Linked DNA regions of Homo sapiens. The protein of the gene in region 2 interacts with the protein of the main gene of each other region in a biochemical or structural test. Each region holds a gene or a part of one and is shown on either strand. Other genes may lie near its edges.

Region 1 (3,749 bases), on a different chromosome or scaffold from region 2:
ACGACCCCCACAAGGGGGAAGGCCCCAAGTGGGCCCCTGCCTGTTGTTCTCTCTGGCTCCAGAGATGTCTGCATAGGCCTCAGCTTCTCACTGGCCAATCTCCTCTTCATGGGCACCAGCCACTGCTAAACATCCTTCCCTCACTTCTTGTGTAAGCTTGCTCCCCTGAGCCACAGGTTGCACATCTAAACCTCAGCTCCAGGGAAAGGAAGAACCAATGGAAGTGCCAGAGTCCTGGGGCAAGCCAGAGCATCACCTGTCAGCAAACCTCTGCTGGGCACTCTAAGCAAGCACAGGACAAGCCCCAGAGTTTAGTGTGTCCAGTATCCAGCATGGAGACAGCACATGCATTGTGCGAGAGGAGCACAAGGGCCCAGGGGCTGCATGGTGGGGGTGGGCAAGGCTGTCAGTGCACGTCCACATTGTGTGTTTCACACCACTGCAGGCCGCCATATCACAGGGCCTCAGTTCAAGGACACACCTTCTGAACTTCCCCCTGTCCCATGCCAGAAGTGGGGCAGTGAAGGAAAGGGGCACGGGATTAGGCTGTTGCTCCTGGGCTATCTGCAGTTCTTGGGCCCAAAGCCCCTGAATCCCCATAGTTAGTTGCTGTCATTCTTGATGACGACCTCTAATCCGTGGTGCCGCAACTGAGCTCGAAGCAGCAGATTCTTGTTTTTAAGATCTTCCACCTGACATGGGAAGGAGGCAGTAAAGGGAATGGGTAGTAAAGCTGGCACTTCCAAGCCCCTGAATGTATTCAGACATCCACTGGTGAGGGGGAAAAGATGAAGCCTTCTCCATGGAGAACAAAGTAGAGGGTGTCAAACTGGGTCAGTGGCTAGCAGAACTGAGAAGGGCTGCACTGGGGGTAGGAGTCTGACCTGTTGTCGAAGCACGTCATTGTCCAGCTGCAGTTGGTCAAGTCCCTGCAGTTCTTCAGACAAGCGGTGGTTACTCTGCCGAAGCTCCTGGATATAATCACAAGCTTTGGATAGAATCCCACCTTTACTCTGCAAGATAAGGTCAACAAAATGAGAACTAGGATTTCAGATACCCAGCTTGCTTTCCAAAAGTAGGTTCACACTTTGGACCTCATTTTCATCTAAGGAAGGTGGTATAATATCTCCCAGGGATACAGGAACCTCAGGGAGAGATAAGACTACTGTCATGTGTGCCCCTCTCTCTACCATTTCTGGAAACAATACCAGGAGGCAGAATTCAGGCATCCTGCCCACTACCAGGGTCTTTCCATGACCTGGCCAGACTTGGTGCTCTCCATAGAGCAGTCTGGGATTATCTTGGAGAGCTGCACGATCCAGTTGTTGATCTTGTCTCGGCGGCGACGCTCCACTGTGGGGCAAAGTGGAGGACAAGGTGACTCAGTGAAAACTCGCCACAAGTCCCAGGGTAAAATTACCTAATCCCTCCTCCCCTCAGACATCACTGCTGAGATCACACCAGACAGCTTCTAGCTCCACCCAGATCATACCTACCTTCATTATGCTGAGCCCTGCGTTTCTCATCCCGAGTCGTCCGGGGAGCTTCTGACTTCCTGACAACAGAGCCCAGGGTGGCCAGAGTAAGAAGACAAAATACATGATTGAAGTTTGGGGTTAAGGAATTATACAAGATTTAGCAGGTATTAGGACCACTTATGGTAGCTAGGTGTGGTGTCTCACACCTGTAATCCCAGCACTTTGGGAGGCCGAGGCAGGCGGATCACTTGAGGTCAGGAGTTCGAGACCAGCCTGGCCAACATGGTGAAACCCTGTCTCTACTAAAGATACAAAAATTAGCCAGGGGTGGTGGTACATGTCTGTAGTTCCAGCTACTCAGGAGGCTGAGGCATGAGAAACGCTTGAACCCTGGAAGCAGAGGTTGCAGTGAGCTGAGATCATGCCACTGCACTCCAGCCTGGGTGACAGAGCAAGACTCTGTCTCAAAAAAAAAAAAAAAAAAAAAAAACCACTTACGGAATCTGAGAAGAAACAAGGGTCACTCACGGGGAATAAGGGTGAGTCCTAGGGGCAATTGAGCGCTGGCTTCCTCCCTGCAGTACTTCTTGTGGTGACATCATCACAAAGAATTGACCTGTGAAGATGCAGGGTAGGTTCTGTCAGGACATGGGTAGGAACCTCACCAAGCCCTGAGGTGAAGACCCTGGTCCCCTCCTCTAAAAAGAACATGCTAATAGAAGAGCAGCCCCAGACTCACTGCCTGTCCAGGTCTTAATGATCACTAAGAGTCATGAGTGAAGGCTCACTGCCTACCAGTCATGTCCCACAGCCTATTCTAGCCCTTTCAGCCAGCATCCTCATGCAATATCTCACCAGTGCCAGGAGGGGTCGCCTGCCCCAGCAGTGCCTCTGAGCCCTGGGTAGTAACAACAGCAGCTGTACTCCCCGATGTGGTACCCCCTGCCCCATCTCCCACTGCCGTGCTGGGGAAGTAAGTATAGTGCGTCTCAGCAGCTGTCCCCTCCGTGTCAACTGCATCATCACTGGTGAAAGCACCCTGGATCACCGCCTGGGAAGGGGAGCAAGAAAACTGATTCTGGTAACAGTCAAAAACTTCTTCCCACTACACCACTCTGCAGCTTCTATCCGTTGGGGTGGTAGGTAGGGTGGAGAGAGAGAGAGAGAGAGAGAGAAACATCCAGAAAAGGAGAGCCTAGTGCTTTGGGACAAGGCAGCCTTAGATGCCTCACTGTTCCTAGCTTCACCCCCATCCTACTGATTCCCTTCTTCATCTTACTTCTCAGAACTCTAGTGACCTCCCCAGCCCATACCCTGTACCTGGGTCATGGATTGAGTGGCAGGGTAGCCACTGATGGCGCCAGTTCCCTCAGTTTGGCCATCCAGCTGCCCCTCAGACACCTGGATCACCCTGTACATCACCTAGAAGTGTAGAGGAAGGCAGAGGGAGTGAAGAGAGAAGAAAAGATTAAGTGTTGGGAATCCTAGGGCCCCTCATAAAGCTTCCCTTGGATAGGGCCCCAAAACAAAGTCCTTCAGAGACATGGATTCAGCCATTCTCCCTTCTTTCCCCACACAGAGGTTTCAGCATACATCTAACCTCACACCAGTCTCTACTCCAGTATTAGCACCTCCCTCCCCTGCAACAGTCCACTCTTTCAACTCATCCTCCAAGCCAGGTCTCCCCAAGACATGTTCAATTACCTCCCTCAATCCCAACCCCAGATAACACCTGCAGCCACCTGGCCCCCTCCCTTACCTGGCCCCCATTCTCAGTTCGGAAGACGTACTTGACGTTGGGGTCAGGGAAGGTGGCAGCTGACTGGATGCTGGCAATAGCCACACTGGTTGGGTCTTCCCCAGTAGCCACTGCACCTGAATTAAAAGAACAAAGGAAAAGTCTGTGAGTTAACTGCCTTTCTACCCCCGTTCCATTTGCATGTCACGGAAGGAGGAGGATGCACAGGAGATGGTCTGGTGGGGAAGGAAGGGAGGCCATGATGGGTTCTTAGTCTTGGTTCTGTTTCTAGCACTCACCTTCCTGAATCTGCACTGTCCCCTCTTCCGTTTCAGCTGTTTTCTGCTGCCTGTTTGTGGTGAAAGGACAAAAGGAAGAGTATGAGAAGAAGTCAATGAGAAGCTCACTGGCCCAGTAACATATGGCTGCAAACTCATTGGCATTCCCAACAGAAGCTGGGTTAGGTTAGAATAACAACTAGTGTTTACTGTTTACTATGTACATAAGCACTAAGCTAAGTACATTACATGTAA
Region 2 (3,749 bases):
GGGTGGTCTCAAATTCCTGAGCTGAAGCAGTCCACCCACCTCAGCCTCCCAAAGTGTTGAGATGACAGGCTTTAGCCACCTGGCATGGCAGGCTGTCCCAATTCTAATCTCAGCTCTCAGCTACTTACTGGCTGTGTGACCATGGGCAAGTTATTTAACCTCCATGTGCCTCAGTTTCCTCATTTTTAATATTGTTACAGGTGAGGATTACAGGATTTCACTGATGTTAAGAAGTACCCTTTAATAGCTCTGAAATCATAGTTTAATTGGCAATTTAAAAAATTTTAGTGGACTAGGCATGGTGGCTCATACCCAGCACTTTGGGAGGCTGAGGTAGAAGGATCACTTGAGCTCAGGAGTTTGAGGTCACACCGGGCAACACAGTGAGACTTCATTTCTACAAAAAAATTAAAAAATTAGTTGGGTGTGGTGGTGCGTGCCTGTGGCCAGGTCGCTTCCCAGCTAGGATCTCAGTAGGATTGCTTGAGCCCAGGAGGCTGAGGCTGCAGTGAGCTGTGATTGCACCACTGCTCTATAGTCTGGGCAACAGAGGGAGACCCTGTCTCAGAAAAAAAAAAAAAAAGAAAAGAAAGAGAAGGAAAGAAAATTAGTGGCATAAAGTTATAGTGGGTTTTTTTTTCAATCGATGAGGTCTTCGATTCCGTGAAATATGGTAAATGATGTAGCAAGCGCCCAGCACAACGTCCCTGTTCCCATTCTATCAGCCAGCTATCTGAGGAGTGGGTTGGGATGGGGCTCAGTGTTCTGGGAGAAGTGGGTTCTAGCTCTGCCGCTGGGCCCTGGGTGTGGGCGCCCAATCGTCCGGGAAGCGCCCACAAGCCCAGGCAAGTCCCGACAGCGGTAGCCCGAGCCCAAGCGCTGCGGGCCCGGCGTCCCAGTGACCCCAGTTCCGGGTCCGAGGCACCGCCGGCGGCATCTCCCACTCCCGGGCCCGGGCCGCTCCAGGCCAGGAAGGGAGGGACGCCCCGGGTGACTCAGCCGCCGTGACTCGGCCGCCGTGACTCGGCGGAACGGACGCCCCTCCTTCCCTCCCCTGTCGACACGTGCTCGCAGCCCCTCGACAGGAAATGGGCACCTGCAGCCTCCCGGGTGCCCCCCGGCGGGCAGCGGGCGCCGTTAGGGGCTGAGAGTGGGGTCGCGAGAGTCGCCCGCAGCCTGACCCCGCGCACGTCCCGGAACCTCGAGGTCTCTATTCGCCGCATTCGGCAAAGGGATCGAGGGCCGGTCTCCGGGGACCTGGCAGGTTCCACTGCCCGGACCCCCCTGGACTCCCCAGGCCGAGAAACGATAGGGACTTGGCGACGGAGGGGCGAAGGACAGACAGACGGACGGACACGCGGAGGGTCGCAGACCGGGCCGGGACTCCCACCCTGGCCCAGCTGCTCTCCCGACGGATCCCGCCTCCCTCCCGTGTGGGGACCCTCACCCCAGCCCAGACTCCAGATCCCAGGAATTCAGCCCGAAGCGGAGAGACCCTCCTAGCCTTCGAGGCGACCACCCTAGGCGCCCACGCCCCTTCTGAAGCAGGGTGGACGCAGAAGTCAGAGGTGGGCAGGAGGAGAGAAAGCGGGCACGGAGACGGAGGGACGGACGCGGACGGCGAGGGAGAAGGGGGCGGCTGGGAGAAGGGGAGTTCGCGGGTCTCTGCTGCCCGCTGCGCGGTGGGGGCAACTGGCCCCGGACGGCGAGGGGCAGGATCCTCGCCCCAGCCCCCAGCCCGGCCCCGACTCCGGTTCCCCGCTCCAGTCCCGGAGCGTGCGGGAGTTGACCCCGGCCTCCCACGCGCGGTCCTCCCGTGGGACCACCGGCGTCGGGCCCCACTCACCTGCTGGGCTGCCTGCGCTGCGGCCGGGGGCTGCGCGGGGCCGCCGTACCCGCCGCCGTTCCCGGAGCTCGGGCCGGGTTCCCCGAAGTCTCGGAACATGCCCGGGGCTGGCGGCTCTGCGGGGTACACGGCTGCTGGGTTCTGACTCACCCGCGCCGTGCGGAGTCTTTTCTTTTTATGAATGAAAAGTTCTCGGGCTGAACCACTGCGACCGCGGGGGGTGGGGGCGTTGCAGCGGCGCGGTCACCTCCAGGCTCCACCCCCGAGACGCGCCGCCTTGGCCCGTCGGTCCCGAACTTGGCGACGCCTCCCCAAGTCCGGCTGCAGCCTTTTCACCGGGATGGGCCCGGCTCGGCGTTCCCCGGAGGCTGCGGGCCCGCCCCCCTGACGTAGCTGCCCATACATGGTGTAACTTCCTCGCCGCGCCCAGGTGGAGCCCCGGGTTCCCCTGCGGACTGACGCACCTGCCAGAGCCCGCGCCCCGCCCCAGCCCTCTCGAGGCCTGGGCTAACCTCCGTTTCTGCTCCCACAAAATAGCACGAAAGAATCACATCTCTAGGAGCCACGCCAACCGCCACCCAAAGCTTCGTGGAGTGAGGTCTTTCCACTGGCCTTGTTTTAAGGCTTCGAGTATATGAAAAGTGAATAAATGACAAACCAGGGTTACAAAAATGGTGGCATATTTTATTTTACTTTATATTTTTGAGACCGGGTCTCTGTCACCCAGGCTGGAGTGCAGTGGCTCGATCTCGGCGCACTGCAGGCTCAACTTCCTGAGCTAAAGGGATTCTCCTGCCTCAGCGCCCCCTCCAAGTAAGTGGGACTACAGGCGCGCGTCACCACACCCAGGTAATTTTTGTGTTTTTTGTAGGGATTGGGTCTCGCCGTATTGCCCAGGCTGGGTGGTATATTTTAAATGTTTGCGATAAGGTAATGCTTTGAACTAACCCCACATAAAATGCAATATAATAGTATTACTCAGGATAATTTCAGGAGCTATAACGAGTTTTAATTCAGGGCCACTACAGGTGTCCTGAGGTCTGATAAACGCCATCTTCATTACGGTCAGTGCCTTTCGGAGGCTTGTGGCCACCAGACTTGTTTGGAGAGTATGTCAAAGGTGAGTGAATGTGAGGCAGGTATCATCCTCATCTCTGTTTTACAGATGGGGAAACTGAGGCTGGGAGATGCTGAAATGAATTGCTTGAAGTCGCTAAGTGAGTAGCTGGCACAGGTTGCCAAGTCACAGCCGTGGGCACTCCAAGCCCAGGCTCAGCCAAGATTTTCAAAGCCCTTACACCTTCACAGACACCTTGTCGCACATCCAGAATGTTAGTGCTGGGCACCATCCCAAAGCTTCTCTCTGATTACTTCCATCATAGATGAGGAAACTGAGGCCCAGATGGAGTACTGAGCTGTCAGTTGTCACACGACTACAGAAAGAGGGCTGGGGCCAGGTGTGGTGGCTCATGCTTGTAATCCTAGCACTTTGGAAGGCCAAGGCAGAAAGAACCATTTGAGACCCCATCTCTACAAAAAATTATAAAATTTTCTGGACATGGTGGTACGCCTGCCTTGTGGTCCCAGCTGTTCTGGAGGCTGAGGCGGGAGGATGGCTTAAGCCAGGGAGGTTGAGGCTGCGGTGAGCTGTGACTGCGCCACTGCAGTCCAGCCTGGGGGACAGAGCAAGACTCAAAGTAAATAGATCAAGAGAGGGCTGGGCTCTCCTGCTTCTCCATCGGTCCTTCCATTTCATCAGCTCTAGCTTTGCCCTCTGGGCTACTTTCCTTGGGAACACAGGCCAGAAGCCTGTGGGTGCACTCAGGACTTAGAGCCAGGAAGTCCAGATTGCCCCTGGGGTTCTAGTCCCAGAGCTACCATTTTCTGTCTGTGTGACACTGGG

Evidence for each region. Proteins that work in one complex are often made in the same cells at the same time.
Region 1: the proteins of FOSL1 (region 2) and USF1 form a complex in vitro, tested with the Homo sapiens proteins (one study listed by BioGRID).

The regions. Positions count from the first base shown.
Region 1 is NC_000001.11:161,039,318-161,043,066, forward strand, and holds part of USF1 (upstream stimulatory factor 1), read right to left. Parts: intron 3,566-3,749; coding exon 3,516-3,565; intron 3,356-3,515; exon of another isoform or gene 3,354-3,355; coding exon 3,238-3,353; intron 2,901-3,237; coding exon 2,799-2,900; intron 2,530-2,798; coding exon 2,334-2,529; intron 2,095-2,333; coding exon 2,007-2,094; intron 1,556-2,006; coding exon 1,497-1,555; intron 1,354-1,496; coding exon 1,259-1,353; intron 1,014-1,258; coding exon 885-1,013; intron 693-884; coding exon 603-692; 3' UTR 1-602.
Region 2 is NC_000011.10:65,898,395-65,902,143, forward strand, and holds the start of FOSL1 (fos-related antigen 1), read right to left. Parts: upstream 1,995-3,749; 5' UTR 1,946-1,994; coding exon 1,847-1,945; intron 1-1,846.